Linked DNA regions of Homo sapiens: region 1 is linked to region 2. A link means that fine-mapping ties the variant in region 2 to the expression of a gene that starts in the linked region. Tissue or cell type: fibroblasts. Region 2 holds a variant in brackets; the other region holds the start of a gene. All regions are shown on one strand. Distances are from middle to middle.

Region 1 (10,976 bases), 23 kb after region 2:
GTCACCCAGTCTGGAGTGCAGTGGTACAATCCTGGCTCACTGCAACCTCTGCCTCCCTTGTTCAAGCGATTCTCGTGCCTCAGCCTCTGGAGTAGCTGGGATTACAGGTGCCTGCCACCATGCCTGGCTAATTTTTGTATTTTTAGTAGAGATGGGGTTTCGCCATGTTGGCCAGGCTGGTCTTGAACTCCTGACCTCAGGTGATCCACCTACCTCGGCCTCCCAAAGTTCTGGGATTACAGGTGTGAGCCTCTGTGCCTGGCCAGAAACATTTTAAGAATAGAGTTCTCTTCCCAATTTGGGGGCTGATCCCTGATGTTTGCAGGGACCCTGATTTCAGAAAAAAATATCAAGTGGGGCCAAAGGCACTGAGAACTACCAAATGTAGCCCATTAACTCTGCCACCACCCCTTGATAATGACATCAGGTAAAGCAAAGAGCTACTAGGTGGACATTATCTCACTGGAGTCCTCGCAATCACATGAGATAATAGTATTATCCTCCTATTTTATAAATGAGGAAACTGAAACCTGGGTGAGCAAATTACTTAACCTAAGGCAACCAGTTACTGAGTGGAAGAGGCAGAATCTGAACTGACCCCAAAGTCCATAAATTGCCTCCACCCATGGTGGACAGGAGACATACACTCAACATATAAATAATGATGAGTGCACCAGCCAGCCATTATTGGGTCATCTTGTCTATCCCGACTCCACCATTTCTAGGGAAGACTTTTATTTAATGGTGGGGGTAGGGAGGCTCAGAGGGTGGGACCATTATCAAGAGCTCCAGGAAAGAGGATCTCATCATAGTCCTTTCAAAAGTTCTGGCCCATGTCTCCCAGAGCAAGGTGTCCAGTCTCTTCAGGGTTACTCATGCTGTCAGGGAGCTTTGCTTCAAGACCCGTTTTTTGTTTTGTTTTGTTTTGTTTCTCGCCCAGGCTGGAGTGCAGTGGTGCGACCTCGGCTCACTGCAACCTCCACCTCCTGGGTTCAAGCGATCCTCCTACCTCAGCCTCCCGAGTAGCTGGGATTACAGGCACACGCCACCATGCCTAGCTAATTTTTGTATTTTTAGGAGAAACAGGGTTTCATCATGTTGGCCAGGCTGGTCTCAAACTCCTGGCCTCAAGTGATCCACCCGCCTTGGCCTTCCAAAGTGCTGGGATTACAGGCATGAGCCACCACACCCGGCCTAAGACCCTTTTCAATTTTTTTTTTGACAAGTTCTTGTTCTGTTGCCCAGGCTGGAGTGCAGTGATGCAATCATGGATCACTGCAGCCTCAACCTCCTAGGCTCAAGCGATCCTCCCCTCTCAGCCTCCCGAGTAGCTGGGACTACAGGCGCGTGCCACCACACCTGGCTAATTTTTGTATTTTTTTAGAGATGGGGTCTTGCCATGTTGCCCAGTCTGGTTTCGACCTCCTGGGCTCAAGCAATCCGCCCACCTCCCTTTTCAGTTTAAAACCAAACCTCACACTTGCCTCACTACCCCTCCTCCTCTGCAGATGTAGCTGTGGAGATTCTAGGAGCAGATGGGCTCTCTTTCAGACAGGAGGTCTGGCGGAGATGCGCCCACGGCTTTTCCTCTTCCAGACTTGCTGCTGAACCACTGGCCAGCTCCAGCCAGGCCCAGCTACCAGCTCTGTAGTGATCCTGGATCCCAGACCCTTGGCCTGAGCTGTTGTGAGCCCAGCCTGTGTGTGCATGTGCATGCAGCTGTGTGTGTGTAAGCAGCTGTGGGAGCCAGGACAAGATTAACCTTGGTCTGCTCCCACCCCCTGGATGTGGGAAAGTGCCCACTCAGCAGGGAATGCCTGGAGGGCAAAGGTGAAAAGTCCAGGGAAGGGGACGTAAGGGGTTATGGTGGGACACAGAGCCGAGGAAGAGAAATGTGACTTATTGCCAAAGGTGGGCTAATCAGGTGGGCCTGGAACCAGGCCAGCCACTCACCCTGAACAACAGAGCAGAACAGGGACTGCAATTAATTAAGTACCAGGGGAGGGTCCTCCTACCTCAGGGAAAGAAGGCGCTGCCAGAGGGCCCTCAGAGCAAGAGACTGCTGCCTCTCCAGCTCCCAGTGCCTGCCTCATTCATAACTGCCAGAAGGTAGGGCCCCCACAGCACAGATTCCTGGCCCCTCCTGGAAGATTTCCATCCAACCCATTCCCCTACCACCACCACCATTCTCTTACACAGAGCCCTCCTCCCTAACCTGGAAGAGCAGTAAAGATTCTGTCTAACTAAGGGCTTGGCCTGATGGGGCTGGGAAAATCTACCTTGGTCTCTAGACCAGCCCTGGTGCAATCACCAGGAAATTCCCTTTCCAAACAAGCACCACCAACCACTATAGCTACCAGTTATTTAGTCTCTGCTACATGCCAGGCACTGTGCATTATTTTTTTTTTTTTTTTTTTTTTTTTTTTTTGAGACGGAGTCTCGCTCTGTCGCCCAGGCTGGAGTACAGCGGTGCAATCTCGGCTCACTACAACCTCCGCCTCCCGGGTTCACGCCATTCTCCTGCCTCAGCCTCCCGAGTAGCTACAGGCACCTGCCACCACGCCTGACTAATTTTGTGCTTTTTTTTTTTTTTCAGTAGAGATGGGGTTTCACCATGTTAGCCAGGATGGTCTCGATCTCCTGACCTCGTGATCCGTCCACCTCGGCCTCCCAAAGTGCTGGGATTACAGGCGTGAGCCACCGCACCCAGCCTAAATCTTATAACAGCCCTCTATTATGATCCTCATTTTACAGATGAGGGAACGGATGCTGGGAGAAATTCACGAGTGTGCTAGTGAGGGGAAGGTCACATAGCTACTATATGCTGGAGCTGGATTCCACCAAGGCCAGAAGTTTGCCCTCCCCTTTAGTTCTCAAGCTCAGTTAGAGAAGAACAGAAGGAATCAGAGGACAGGTAGATGGAGATGCTGGACAAAAGTCCCAACAGGGTGATCCCAGAAAGTAGAGGCTTGGTTAGGGTAGGAACCGGGAAGAGTCAAGCCGGGCTCTGCCCTACAGTGTAGGACGCATTCCCGAGTGCGGGACGGCCCAAGTAGGCAGAGGACAGAGTCCGAGTCTGTAGAGGAAGCAAATGCACCCTGAAAGGCAGCTCCATGTCCTCTAGACCTGAGCGGGGGTTTGCAGGGCTGGCAACCTGATCCCACGAGATCTCAGACCAAGAACCTATTTGCTCCTCAGATCTGGTGCCCTCTCTCCTGTGCCCCATGGAGAAGCCTGGCTCTGCCTAGTGCAGGACAGACAGATGGGAGCCTCAATATTTGGAGCATCACCCCCATTCTTTCTTCTCCTGAGGACTGACGCAGACCAGAGAACTCCAGAGTGGGCCGGAACCTCCCCACAATGGGGCAGGGGTTAACAGCAGGGGCTTGGGGTCAGACGGAAGTGGGCTGGATCCCACCTCTGTGTGACCTTGGAAAAGTTGGTCTCTCAGAGACTCAGTTTCTTCACCTGTAAAATGGGGATGATAATAATACCTACTTCATAAAGTTGTGACGCACTGCTTGGCGCACAGTAGATATTCAACAAATGGTGGCCACTAAGGCTTGTCTACTCTGCCTCTGGCACCCCCGATAAGTTTGGGAAGAACTTCTTCTGGCACGCGTGGAGAGCTTCTTCCATTCTCCTGGCAGGGTATGGGGAGAGTCCTGGGGACCCAGTGGGGAGAGTCCTGGGAACCCAATGGTCAGGTACACCCCAGATTAAGGGTGGGGGAGGGGTCAGCCCCACAGCCTCCTCAGCTGCACAAGAGGTGGCTGGGAAAGGGTAACCCGAGATAGCAGCTTTGCTGTGGCAAGGTGACCCTCTCTCTGGAACGCCTTCAGGATGCAAACCCGGACCTGGAGCCAGTGTCGCCCTGTACTCCACCGACCCTCAGCACCCTCAGCACCGTTTTCCCAGGCCCCTCCCAAGGCCAGGCTAAAGGCAGGGGATCTCTGAGGACGTGCCAGTCCACCAGGCGCTCCAGGCATCCTCTCAGGCCCGTGTCCAGGAATGTGCTGCATGCCCATGCCCGGGTGGGGAATGCCACGCGAACATGCCGAAGCTCACTGGGTGCTGACACAGGAGGGGCAAGCCGGTGGTGTTAGTGAGTCACAGGGCCCAGGCTACAGCTGGGGAACTGCCGAGGGCTGGGCTAGGGGTGGGGAAGAAGGGGAGACAGTAGCAGATAGCGCGGAAGAGGTTCCAGGGCCTCTCACTCCCACAGTGTCAATCCTCCCACCCCGACTGCCGGGAGGTGCCCAGAGAGAATGAAGAGAGGCAGGGCTGGTGCCTAGGAGGGTGCTGACCCTGCAGCACAGAAAACCCCTCACTGTTTCTGCAGCCCAACTCCCACCCAGCACAAGGTCTGCAGACACCTTCAGGGAATCCCCGCCCCCCACAGGGCGAAAACAGAGGCCTCCAGTCCAGACCCGATTTTGGATTTCAGATTCCTGATGGTGTCCCTCAACTACAGCAGAATCCTCAAGGCACATCTCCTTAGCCCAACAGGTCACCGCCCACTCCCCCCGGCCCCACCCAGCCTCCTTTCCCTCTGCTGCATTAACCCTCTGTCGCCTGTTGATGAGGGGTGGAGGGGGGCACTGCCCCTTTGGTCTTCCGGGGTGGAAAGAGAGAAGCAGCAGCATTCCCCAGACCCCTGCCTCCCCCAGAACTGGGACCTGCAGGGCTTCACGTGTCCTTCCACGTTCTTCCCAGGGCTCCGGCCTCCCACCCCCTGCCTGCCGCTCTGGAAAGTTCACCAGAGCCCAGGAAGCCCTTCAAGGCAGCGATGTGGCCCCACACTCTCGGGTCCTTTGGTCCCTGGAGACTCCTGACCCTTGCCCTTCCCAGAATGAAGGGAGCTTAGAAAGCGCCTGGTTCCGGACTGGGTGGAAAACTTTGCTTTGTAGGGTTCAGACGGGAGCCCAGGGGCCAAAGTGATCCCAGATGGAGACTCCCTAAGGGGGCGCGGGGTCTGAGATTGCAAAATAACCCTCCCTCTCAAGCACCTGGAACTTACGAGTGGCCTTTCGAGGGCACCCCCCACCCCTCAACACACAACACAGTATCACACAGATCACGCCTCGTGATCTCTGCTCTCCCCTCGCCGCTCCGGTATTTCCCTCCAACCTCTCGCCTCAGGGCAAAAGCAAAACTGCGCCTTTAAGAGCCGTTCCGCTTACCTTTGCTCCTTATACCCGGCGCCGCGGTGCCCGCTCCTCCGACCTCCCCCTTCCTCCCAGGCGCACCGCCCGCGGGACTCACAGCGCGTGTCCTGGGGGCCGCGGTGCGCCCGCTCCCTCCCGGGCACGGGGCAGCTTCCCCTGCTCCGGAAAGGTGAGCAGTTCCCCAGAGAAGCTGCAACCTGAGCTGGCCGAGGAGGAGGTAGAAGGGGAGGGGAAGGGAGGGAGTGGAGGAAGGTGGGGAAGAGGAGGGAGGAGGAGGAGGAGGAGGAGGAGGAAGGAAAATGCCCGGCCCCCGCCAGAGTTTTTCACATGTACAAGTTGACTCCGCCCCCGGCCCTCCCGCCCTGCCCACAGCCGCTACCAATCCCCAGGGCTCCCTCTGCCCGGGTGCCCACCCCTTTCTCCCACTCTGGGAACCAGGGTCCAAGTGCCTCTTCCTGTTTCGTTTCTAAAACCGGCCCTGAGAGCCTTGGCTAGGGGATGAGGCCTTCTGGACTGGATCACCCCAGGACACCAAGGCGCCAGGGGTACACTGAGAGTGCCTGCCTGTCTCTAAAAGCGGTGCTCCTACCTCTCCTAGGTACCTCCCTGTACCTGGCGCCCTAGGAACGAATGTGCATGGACAGATTTTGGTGGTCATTTTCTTGACAATAGTAGCCCTCGGGCTCCCCTTCTACCCTATCCAGTGGGACTTGTCACTTACCTTTCCGGACAAAGTTCCCACCTCTCCAGGACCTGAATGAAGCCCTTGTTACCAGCCATCATTCACATTTCCCTCCCCGAAGGATAATTCAACTTGTCCTTTTGGAATTAAACTCCACAGGATATTTGAGAATCATCCAAGAAGGGTTACAGAATGGCTAGTTCAGCTAGTGGCACTCTCATTTTACAGAAGGGGAAACTGAGGCCCAGCAAAGCAATTGAACTGGCCTAAAGTGCCACAAGAGTTCATGGCGAGCCATGATTAGAACTCAGGCCAATGGCCATTGCACCCACATCATCTGACTTCAAGGATCAAAAAAAAAAACAAAACAAAAATCTGGGGATGGGGGTGAAGGGCACAGTGCCCCACCGCCAGGCCCCTCTCATCTCTGCTTCCTCCTGAGGGCTGTGAGGAGAGGAGGTGTGCCTTGGCTCTATGGCACCTCATCAAGGCAGTCTGTGTCCCCTGCCCTACCAGAGGGCTTGGCTGCTGCAGTCTGGGGTCTCCCACAGGGAAAGTCTCCTTAGGAGGGGGTGCTCCACAGTGTACATGTGCTTCTACCTGAACCCTTTCCCTGGGGACTGTGAGTTGTTGAGAATAGAACAGTTTCCTTCTGGAAGACATGGGCCTGAGGTCCCACTGTCAGCTGGAGACAGGAGAATGAAGGAAGACACTGGGCCCATGCATGAAAGTGACCTGTGGGTAGTTGACATCTCACAGAGGGCCTCCCAACTCTTTTTTTTTTTTTTACCTCGCTTTCTCTGCCAAGGCATGCAGATTTCCTGGGCACAGCACTTCCTAAAAATGAAACTGCCAAGTGTTGTCGGGGTGCATGGATCCAGAGCCTTTAGGTGTGCAGCAACCTCCTGGCTCTGTAGTCCAGTGGATGGTGAGAAGCCTGGGGAGCAGGAGGCCATAAAGAGGTTTGGAAGGGGCAGGGAGGGAAAGGGAGAAGGACTATGGCCAAGGAACTGTTTACTGGCGGATTAGAGAGAGTGGGGCCAAAGGGTAGAATTTCAAGGAACTAGGGGGGTGAAGTCAAGAGGTCTCCACAAACACTTTCTCAACATCTCTTATGTGCCAAATGATAGCCAGGGCTCTGGGCACATAAGATGAGTATAACCCAGTCCCTGCCTTCAAGAAGCTCTTGGTGTAATGCGGCAGGGAAGCAAACAGTTAGGATGCTATAGGAGGAGGCTTAGTGTTACGGATGCCTGGGAGGAGCTATTCTGCTTGAGGTGAGGGTTACAGGATGAGGGGACAAGAGAGAGGAGGAAGGATTTTCCCTGTTTTTTCCAGGAGGGGTAATCCCTTGTGCAGAGTGCAGGGGTGACAGAATATGGACCCACAGTTCCATGAGGTCAGAACTTAAAGTCTGGGGTGGAGGTGACACTGTAGAGGCAGGCAGGTGCTGGGTCCTGAAGACCCCCAACGTGGAGGCTGATCCTAGTGGAAAATGAGAATGAGCTTAGACCACACAGCGGCAGCAGGGAGGAGAGGAGGGAACTGATTTGAGAGATAGGTAGGAGACAGGGTCATGGAGCCTTGTGACTATTGGATTCTAGAAGATAAGGGAGCCAACAGTGTCAAGATTAGAAGCACTGATGTGATAGGCTGAGTGGGACCTTGGAGCTTCTTAAGTGAGCCTTGATTCCCAGCACCTCCTTAGATTGCTCTGTGAACTTGGGCAAGCGAACTAAGCTTTCTGAGGCCATCTGTAGAACAAAGTTGCTAAAATCAATCTTGTATGGTTGTTGTACATATTAGGGTAATGTATGCTAAGGGCCTGGCATAGGACTTGGCTCATAATGGAGAACTCAATAGATAGTAAATATAATTACCATCATTCATGCATTCAACAAACATTTATTGAACACCTGCTATGTGACAAGGACTATACTGGATCCTTGCATTGGATAGATGATTTTAAGTCTCAGTTCCTATTCTCATGTAGTTCACTGTTCAGGTGGAGAAAGATATGCAGAGGCAGTCACCTACCAAGGCAATATGGGCTGAGCAGAGGAAGAAGCCCTTAACTCTGCCCAAGAGAATTTGGGACAGCTCCACAGAGGAGAGATGACAGCTGAAATGATGTAGGGCCAGCCACCTGCTCAGAGCCTGTCACATCACCCCCTGCCCCACCACCACCACATGGGATTGCTTCAGAATCTCTGAAAGCTTCAGTTTTGAAGCATCGTCTTGGTTCTCAGGGTTGAAGGAAGAGGATGAACTGCAGGTGGGCATCTATATGGAGCCCAGAGAATGGCACAACAAGCTTTGGCCACCCCAGGAAAGGGCAAGTGCAGATGGGAGGTGGGAGGGGGGAACCAGATAAGAGTGACCCTGGGCAGGGCTTACTAGCTGGATAGGGAGTCCATGATACCCAGTCATACACATCAGTGGCCTGTGTATGTGTGCTCTTTGGGTCAGCCTAATTTTTCTGCTTCTCATCTGTACCATTTCAAAAATTCCCTCTGAACCCCTTGGTGTCCCCTGCCCTCCGATGCCAACTTTCTTTCTGTGCATCTTGCAATAAGCCAAACACAGTAGAAGCAGCACTACCTAGGACTTCCACTAAGGAGGGGCTCCTTCCCTGCTGCCTTACCAAGCAATACTTTGAGCTTTAAAGCCATGTAAACTGTGTGACCTTGGGCAGTTACTGACATATCTGACTTCCTTTCCTGTCCATAACATGGAGATGGTAATAGTCCCTCTCTCATGGGGCTGTTGTGAGGTTTCAATAGGATGTAAACTTGGCACCCAATCAATGCTGTTTCTCTTTTCTGCAGCCCATTAACTCCCTCCTTGCAGAGGGACAGACAACAGACCCTCAGCTGGGGGTTTCCCTGGCACCCCAGCCCCTGGGGCCCATCCCCTGTGGGTCCTGCAGCCCCCTTCCCCTCTGCTAGTCTAATGGATCTGTGGCATCCCCGGGAGGCCCTGGTCACCCTAGCCATGTAGCAGTGTAATGCTGGCAGGCCTGAGCAGCATGACAATGGTGGCCCCAGCAGCAGCTCAGCCCACTGCCCACTCTGCTCCTGTCTCCTCCTCGCTGCCAGTGACATGCCACTGCTCTGCAGATAGGACAGGCGTCCCTGGGTGCCTGAGGGCTGAGCAGGGAAGCTGGAAACAGCTCTCCCTCGCAGACTGTGTGGGCAGTGCATTTGAATAGCATCTGAAAAACCAAAGTTCAAGCCCGCCCCACTTTCCCCTGGGAGGCACAGCATCCAGACAGGGAGAGTTCAGCCAACAGAGAATCTCTTTTCTGCACATTGTCAGGGGCTCCCTTCCCCTCTGGCCCTATATCCGAGCAGGCACAGTCTCTGAAAGCACTGCAGGGACATTTGGGAGGCCGGAGACTTGACTCCGCCCCTAAGGTGCAGAAATCACTTTGTTTCTCTGGGCCTCTGTTTTCCTCTATAGCAAAAGGGGAATAGTGTGAATACCTATCTTTCAGGATGGGAGAACTAAATGCAAAGGTGACTGTGAAAGTGCTTTGCACACTGTAGAACGACCTGCATGTGTATGAGATCATTAGTGTTTGTCCAGAGGGCCCTTTTTAGGGTTCCAGGAATCAAGTAAAGACATGAGAAATGAGAAGCTAAGTGAGAACAGAGAAACTCACCTCAACAGCCTGCCCTTGGCAGGCAGGAGGGAGATTGGCAGCAGAGACCTGAAGATGGACTGACCCATTATGGCCTAGCTAGTTAGAGGTCTGTGAGTCATTGGGACAGCAGGACTTGGCTAGACTGAGCCAATTCTTACTCCTCCTCTGGCTAAACCTAGGCCATTGTTTTCCAGTGATTTATGAGAAGTGGGGATGATTAGGAGAAAAATATCATTTACCTGTAGCAGTGTGATTCCAGCAGAGAGCCTGGGACTTTCTGCTTTATCACTTCACCAAGTGTCATATCCTCCCTTCGCTATTTGTGGTGAAAGTACAGGCATGTGTGCATTTATGCATGTGTTTACACATGTGCATGCACATGCACGCACACACACACACCATTCTAGACTTCAGATGAGGCAACAGCTGCATCCCCAGAGGGTTCTAGGACAGGGTGGACCCATAAATAGAGTCAGCCAATCACAGACCAGTTGACCCTAGCAACTATCAAACCAATTAGAACCCCACCACTACATCCAGCGGTGCCTTCCAAACTTACACACACACACACACACACACACACCCCACCCCCTTCAGGTTGATGCATTGCCATGACAACAGAATCACCACACAAAGCTGGTGTAAATGGGAAAGTGGTCCTTAGGAACAAGACTAGAAGAGTCTTTGGGGTGAGGCTGCAGGCCACACTGGCTGGGGTGGGCCACTGAGAGGACCCGTATGCAGGGTGGGAGAGGAGAGACAGCTGGTTTACCTGGGCTTTCTAAGCCCATTCTTTACCCCTGGGTCTCTGTTTGCTCACCTAGAGAATGGGGTCAAAGACTCCTACTTGGATTATAGTGAAATGTAATGAAATTATTTCTCAACTAATAGATAGGGATAGGAACCGTAGATTTTCTTTTCAGGAAACCTTAAGAATTTTGAGACTTTTGGACCAAGAGAGTTGATTGATCCCCAGGAAGACCTAAAACCAAACCCTAAAACCCAGCTCATGAGTTCATTGGACAGTTGGATCTTAGTTCAGTTTGAAAGTAGTTACTCAATATCTGCCATGGGCCAAGCACAGGTGCTGATTTCAGCTGTAGCCAGGTAGCCCTTGAGGAGCCAGTTGAACATCTTGGTGAAGACTTTTAGAAATGCTCCAGAGGCCTGTTGGATGGGCCTGGAGACAAGTGCTCTGGAGGTGGCTGACCGGGAAAGACCTTGCTCAGGGCCAAGGAAGAAGGCCATGGTTTGAACCCGCAGGCCCCACTGGCCCACTGGCCTTTAGCTTCCAGGCCCCACACCCCTCCTTCAGACAGATGCCAGAGAGGCCTTAACCTTAGCCACTGGCCAATCTGCCAGTGGCTCCTCCTCTGCCCAGTTGCTTCCAGTAGCTCCCCAACAGGAGGCCTTTGAGTCCCCAACCCCTCTTTCAGAATCTGATGAAATCTGAGGAATCAAAACACATATGCACAACATT
Region 2 (7,135 bases):
CAGTCGCTGTCCCCCAGAGCTGCTCTGACAGAGCAAGCAAGGGCATGCAAACAGGAGCCGGTCTGACCTGGTGTCAAATCCCATCTCTGCTACTTACTAGCTGCATGAACTTGTGACTTAACCTCCCAGAGCCTCAGTTTCATTGACTATGAAATGGGGAATATTAATAGTACTAGCTTCAAGGGGTATTTTAAGGATTAAAGAAGACGATGCATGGAAAGCATTTGTCAATGTCCAAGGCCATTGACTGTTCTAGGAACAAAGTACCGTTCTCCCAGGATGGAATCTGATTAGAGAGCTCAGGGTTTGCAGAGAGAATGCACCAGAGACAGCATGCCTCTTTGCCAGGGCTACTGTCAAATGCAATGTCCTGTCTGGGGTGGAGGGTTGAGGAGGGAAGAGCTGGACGAGGAAGTCTAGGCAGGAGAAACCAACCCCTTCTCTGCTCCCCAAAGAGTCCAAAGGGAAGCCAGTGGTGGGGGGACCATGGGAGTCCCCACTGGGGAGGGGTCGCCTGCTCTGGCTTCCACTAACAAGGGGAGGGGTCCAGGAGAGCACAAGCCCCTACCTGGCTGCTGGAAGGCCAAGCCTCGGTAGCCTGGGTCCTTCTGGAGCTGGATCTCCTTCAGGGAGAAGATGGAGGCAGCTGGGGGAGAGAAGTGCATAGTCTGGAGAGGGCTGCGTGGAGCTGGCCTCCAGTAAGGACTGGCCCAGAAGGACCAACTGAGCCCTCGAGGCAGCGTCTCATTTCCACTGTTTGCCCCCTCAATTTGGAATGAGAACCCCAGCAGGGGAGGCAAGGTGCCCGGGGCTGCTCTGCTGGGGCTGGGGCCTCTGGCCTCTTTGTTCTGGTTCTTCTGCCCACACTCACCAACCCCTTTCCTTGGTTCTGGGTGGCCCTGCTCCCGGACCCCCAGTACTCACTGTCTTCAAGCTGGTGCACACGCTCTCCCAGAGACCGGAAGTAGGAGTGACTCAGGGCAGCCTCTGCTGACATGCGACTCTTGGATTCATACTGAAAGGCACAGGGTGGGGCTATTGGGCCCGGCTGGGGGGCTGCAAACCCTCTGGGCAGCAGGACTCCAGTGCTGGTTAGAGCACCAAGGTGGGTGAGGCTTGAGGCTAACAGGAGAAGCCCCAGGTCAGCCTCCAGCCCCTACCACAAACCCAACCTCAGGCCATCTCAAGACTCAGGGGAAGGCTCCTCGGTCTCCAGCCACCAGGAAAAACCAGAAATGAAACTTCAGGAGAGTGACCTTCTCTTGGGATAGAAATACAGATGCAAACCAACCATGATCAGATGGAGAACATCCGTAACAGGAAGCGTAGTGCCGATAACAACCCTTCATCGTGTGCCTTACAAGACAGGCACCACACTAAGTGTGTCCCGTCATCTCAATGTATCCTCACGGCCATCTTATAAAATAGGTATTAATCCCACTTTGCAGCTGAGGAAACTGAGGCATGGAGGAGCTCTGTAACTTGCCCAGAGCTACACAGCTAAGTAACGGGTTTGGGCTCGCAGTGCACAGACTCCAGAGGATGTGTATGGAGGCCACCCCTTGGCCTTGGGGGTGGAGAGTACAGGGGAGATGTTTCAAAGACGTGTAAGCACACGAGCCACAGAAGTTGGGGCGTAGGCCCGGCATGGGGCACAGGGACCTGGCTCTTTGGCTGCCTCTCCCTGGGCCCCGCCGGGAGGACACTCACCAGGAGCAGGCTGCTCAGGAGGTGGATGCCATCCGTATCCAACCTGCAAGGAGAAGGCGCGGACACAGGCTGTGCCTGATTGGGGATGGGAGAGCCAGGGCCGCAGCAGGAGGGGCGGCGGGCGCAGGGGCTACCTGGGCGCGTGGTTGATGAGCGGCTGCGGGAGGTAGCAGGGGAAGCTGTAGGTGCGGAACTCAGAGAAGGCGGTCACGCCGGGCCACGTCTCTTCTGTGGGGGTCCCTGGGGAGACGAGAGAGGGTGGGGAGGGCCTGCGTGAGGCCCAGGGCCAAGGCCGACTTGAAAGGGATGCAATGTATGAGGTGGGAGCAAAGATGGCCGAGGCCACAG[G/C]GGGTCCCCGCCCGGGAGAGAGGCGGCCGAGCCGCTCCTCCCCGTCCCGCTCCGCGCCTGGGCTGGAGGAGTTCCGGCGCCCCCTGGTGGTGAGAGGGACGGAGCAGCGGGAGACTGACCGAGGAGGCGAAAGATGAGGTGCAGCTCCTCCTTGACTGTGGAGCCCGGGAAGAGGGGCCTCCCTGTGGCCATCTCGTAGTGGATGCAGCCCACGCCCCTGCGAGGAGCAAGGGGTAGGGTCGGCATCAGGCAGGGGCGGCCGCCCTTCCTAGGGCTGCTCCACCAGGGCACCAATGACGACCTGCCACAGGCGGCTGCAGGGATCGTGGCTCTGGCGGCGGAGGGGTGGCCCAGGGCAGTGGAGGCTCCTAGAACTGCCCAGCCCCCACTACAGCCCCTCTCTGGGGGGCTTCCCTGGGCTCGGGAAAGCTGCGACTTTCACTCTGTGAGGAAAGTCCCCTTTCACTCTGTGAGGTTTGGGTCTGTGCAGCCAGCGCCCATGTGGCAATTCTCTCAGCAGTGTTGTCTCAAACTCTCTCCACTGTGTGCCCCACTGGAAGAGAAGTACATAAATCCATTCTCCTGGGGAACCTTGGGGCGGAGTCACAGCAGCCATTCATAACCACCGGCGGCTTGGCTTGCAATTTGGGCTGATTTTTCATTTTACACCAAATCATACACTTGTTCATTTTAACATAAAAATAGTACTTCTCTTTCAAAATTTTCACTGGGACTGATGCTTGGGGAAGATTCATCGTATTTACTATAGGGGCCCTCCTGGACCCTCTGGGTCTCTGGTAACCCCCCACAGGCCTCTGGGGGAGGATTTCAAATGCACAGGCTTGGGGGTCTATTTAAGCCAGGGAAACCCTAACCTATTATATTTCAGACCTAATTTTTTAACATCCATTTCAGCAGGATGTCACAAGGCTTTTAGGCAAAGGAAGTTAGGCAGTTCTTCCCCGAGGCCCTTGGGGAAGCAAAGGAGAGTCTGGAGGTGTGGCCAGGCCTGTCCTCCCCTCCTCGGTCCCCACAGTGCTCACTCACCACATATCAATGGGGGTGGAGTACTCTGTGGATCCCAGCAGCACATCGGGGGGCCTGTACCACAGGGTCACCACCTCATTGGAGTAAGTCTTTGTGGGCACTGACTTGGCCCTGGCCAGTCCTGGGGGCAGACATGTCACTGGACCTCTGTCCACAGGTGCTGTGGGGTTGACTGCTATGCCCTCCCCCACTGCACCCACACCCTGAGGCACCCCAGTAGCGTCAGACCCCCACCCTAGCCCCAGCCTCACCAAAGTCGGCCAGCTTCAGCTCCCCCCTCTCGTTGATGAGCAGGTTCTGGGGCTTCAGGTCCCGGTGCAGGATCTTGCGGTGGTGACAGTAGGCGAGGCCCCGGAGCAGCTGGAACATGAAAATCTGGGGGAGGGGGAAGAGAAATGTGGGGTGGAAGGTGGCCCTGAGCCTCTGCTCCAAGGCTGGGACCAGGATGGGGGCAGGGGCTTGGCAGTGAGGTCAGCACAAGCCCCTCATTCTCCTGCACACCCTGCAGCCCCCATCCTGGACCCCACCCACACCAGGGAATCCCATCCAGAGGGGAGGACAGCAGGGGTGCAGAGGACGCAGTGAGTGTGGGGGAGGCCAGCGAAGTCTCAGTCAGGAGCACGGGGGTCAGGATGCCCGCCTATGTGGAGACATATGTGCTTGATCCCTTTTTTTTTTTTTTTTCTTTTAGAGTCAGGGTTTTACTCTGTCACCCAGGCTGGAGTGCAGTGGTGTGATCATGGCTCACTGCAGCCTCAACCTCCCGGGCTCAAGTGGCCCTCCTGCCTCAGCCTCTCAAGCAGCTGGGACTATGGGTGCACGCTACTGTGCCCGGCTAATTTTTCAATTTTTAGTAGAGATGAGGTCTTGCCATGTTGCCCAGGCTGGTCTCAAACTCCTGGGCTCAAGCCATCTTCCTGCCTTGGCCTCCCAGTGCTGGGATTACAGGCGTGGGCCACCATGCCCAGCCTTGATTCTTTAACAAACACCAGGAGAGGTCATTCATAACCCCGAGCTTCCCCAGAAGCCTCCCTGCATTTTGGCAGGTAGCTCACACTCCCATTTGACAGACTGGGAAACTGATGTTCAGAGTTGAGAGTGGGTTTTATACCAACAGCTAGACAGTGGCAGACAGTGTGTGTCTGTTCTTGGGGTAAAGCGCTCAACCCAGTTCCTGGACTCGTTGATGGCATTGCCCTCTCCCTCTTTCCTACGTGGGAAGGTCTGAGCCACCTCAGCAGCCGGATCCCTGGTGGTGAGAGTGGGTCCCCACACTGGGCTTCTGGACAGGTGGCTGCCAAGATGGGGGGACCCTGCCCCCGAGGCCTCACCTTGACGTTGTGCATGCTCATGAGGTTCCCACAGTGGTCCAGATACTGCTTCAGGTCACTGTCCTGGAACACAGAGCGTGGCTCAGTCCTGCCCCACGCTGACCCCTGGCCAGAAGCCCAGACACAGGCTGAGGAGAGGAAGCCCCTCCCTGGGAAGGGCCCACGCCCACTAGTGGGACAGGTCCCTGGCTCGAGCCACCCGTAAGCCTGAGCTCTTGGCCCACTCCTGCACGGGAGCATCTGAAAATCTGATTCCAGAACAAGGCCTGGGTCGCCCTCATCCCACTACTCCCACTCCCTCAGCTTCCCACTCCCCTACCCACACCCCGTTTCCACCACAAGAGGGAGAGGCGGCCAGCCCCAGCCGGACTCTCACCAGGTACTCAAACACCAGGGTGAGGGACCGATCTGTGTGGATGAGGTCATGCAGGGTCACAATATTGGCGTGCTTCAGGTTCTTCAGCAGAGACACTGTGAGGAGACAGATCCACCTGGGTCCCTAGGACCCCATGTGTCCCCATACCCTCTTTTCTTGGGGTCAGCGCCAGGAGTCCCATTCCAGCAATGATCCTCTACCCCCAGCTCCCACAAGGGTGCAGGCTGGTGAACCCCTCCTCCTGAAGCCCCCAGGGGAGCGTGGGAGCCTAGGATGCTGTACCCTCTCGGATGGCAGTGCAGGGCGCTCCCTCCTCGTGCTCCAGCCGGATCTCTTTCAGGGCCACAAGGTTCTCCGTCAGTTTGCTGCGCCCTTTGAAGACTGTGGCATAGGTGCCCTGGGATGGAGGGCCACAGCGGCCCCAGGCGCATTCAGGTGCTGCTGGCCTCTGTCCAGTGCCTCCCCATTTGTGCCTCTGCCTGGGCTACGACTGGGGCCTGAGTGCCCTTCCTCCCTTTACTGACATGCTGTTTCCTCCAAAGCCTACTTCCTCCAGGAAGCATCCCTAATGACTCCCCAGTCGGAGTGAATCCGTCCTTCCTCTAAGCCCCAGCACGCCGCGTGCCCGTCTATGATAACACCAGGTTTTTTCTTCCTTATACGATGCTGATGTTTACACAGAGGTCACCTCTTTGGGCTCCTGGAGGGAAAGGGCTGTGTGTTCCCTCTCTCTATAAACCTTCACCCACCCCAGGCCTCTGCACAGTGACAACAAAAATAGCTAAGTGACACAGCACTTCCTATGTGCCAGGCATTGTCTGTGTGCCGTACATAAGCTGATTACAGTAACCTGCCCAATCCTCACAATAACCCTATGTGATAGGACAATTACTGTCTCATTGGACAGAGGAAGAAACTGAGGCACACAGAGAGGTCATGTAACTTGCCAAAGGTCACAGAGCTAGTAAATGGTGGAGCTAGGTTTTGAACCCAGGCAAGAAGGACTTGCAGAAAAAAAAAAGACTGGATTCTGCCCAGGGCCATGGCTACTCTATCCTCACGCCCTCCTTCAGGATCTGAGCTCACTTCAATCCCTGCCAAAGCCTGGGCCAGAGCGCACAGCCAAGACTGTGCACCTCTATGGGGCAGGGGCCAGGAGAGGGCCAACCAGAGAGGGCCGACCAGAGAGGGCCGACTAGGGAGGTCTGCCCCTCCTCCAAGCCATCCTGCCTGGCTATTCGGAGAAGACCAAACCCAGCGTCTTACCTCTCCCAGTTTGTCCAGTTTCACGTATGTTTCCAGTTTCCCAAAGCCAATGTCTGACTGAGAGGGAGAGACATAGAATGCCGTGAGCTTGAAGCCCTTAGCAGCTCCACAGACATGACGCCTCCCCCAACTCCAGCCTCTGGGAGGGAAGGGATGAGACTCCATGGTGGAAGGGGCTCCTTTTCCCTTTATCCCTGTGATAAAGGACAGAGCTCGTGAAAGTGTGAGTTTCTTCCTCCCAGGACAGCCAAGAGTGTAGAGCCCAGAGCTGTGGCACCTGGGATTGTTGCACATCTTGACTACCTGTGTCTCCGACTGAGACCACGAGCTCCTCCAGAGTGAGTGCTGCCTTTTTTCCCATTGTACCTTGAGTGTCCAGTTCAGAATCCACCTCTCTGACTGTGTCTCTCATCAGCGCACTTCTAGCTCAGGTGTATCCAACCCTTAACAAGACGGATTCCTGGACCCCCTAGCCGGAGAGGCTGATTCTATAGGTGTCTGGAGGTAGAGTCTGTGTTTTGTAAGATGTCCCAAACAGCTCTGATAGGCAGTTAGGACTGGAAGGCACATGCCAGCTGGCCTATTGATCTTAACCATGTGGAGACCGTGGGACCCACTGTGGGCTTAGAGTCCCATTCCAGCCCAAGTGAGACCCATCTAGGAAATGGATGTTGATGTAGGAGGACGAGCTAGTTGAATGCACTCAAGCCAGCAGGTGGCACCAGAGGCCCAGGAATCTTCCTCGAAATCCCATCTAGGCCTCAGCTGGGACTGATATGCCCATGCTGGGGAGGGCATATCACCCCACCTTGTGTCCTCTGACCCTCTTGGGACTCACCAGGGAGGCCCGGCGGGACATGCGGCTGAGCGGCTTGGGCAGATCTGGGCTCTCCATCTGTAGCTTCTGTAGGAATTCCTGGGGCAGGCGGATATCCATGGGCAGAGAGAGCCTCTTGCTGACGTCCTGTGGTGACAGGGATGAGATGGGGACACCACTGTTGGTTTCAGGGTAGCTAGGGCTGTGGGGCTCCAGACTTTCACTCTGGACCTAGCGTTC

Direction of the effects. Positions count from the first base shown, and alleles are read on the strand shown. Sizes are in standard deviations (SD) of each study's normalised expression.
For the expression in fibroblasts of the gene that starts at base 5,393 in region 1, allele C in region 2 goes with a higher level than allele G (large effect, 1.0 SD a copy in GTEx).

What was found. PIP is the estimated chance that this variant, and not a neighbour inherited with it, causes the effect.
Region 1: CDK18 starts here. The variant in region 2 is fine-mapped to the expression of CDK18 in fibroblasts (GTEx, PIP above 0.99).

What each region holds. Positions count from the first base shown.
Region 1 is chr1:205,499,086-205,510,061 of GRCh38, reverse strand. It overlaps CDK18 (cyclin dependent kinase 18), which reads right to left and starts at 5,393. Exons shown (of 16, transcript NM_212502.3): 1 at 5,266-5,393. RefSeq lists an enhancer at 2,816-3,469.
Region 2 is chr1:205,524,139-205,531,273 of GRCh38, reverse strand. CDK18 (cyclin dependent kinase 18) reads right to left here. Exons shown (of 16, transcript NM_212502.3): 4 at 6,917-7,042; 5 at 6,079-6,135; 6 at 5,095-5,209; 7 at 4,813-4,907; 8 at 4,437-4,499; 9 at 3,357-3,480; 10 at 3,106-3,226; 11 at 2,178-2,275; 12 at 1,845-1,950; 13 at 1,711-1,753; 14 at 925-1,015; 15 at 569-646. Among named protein-coding and RNA genes, the nearest start is that of CDK18, 23 kb to the right of the region's middle. RefSeq lists a silencer at 2,022-2,141. The variant G/C (reference allele first, on the strand shown) is at 2,059.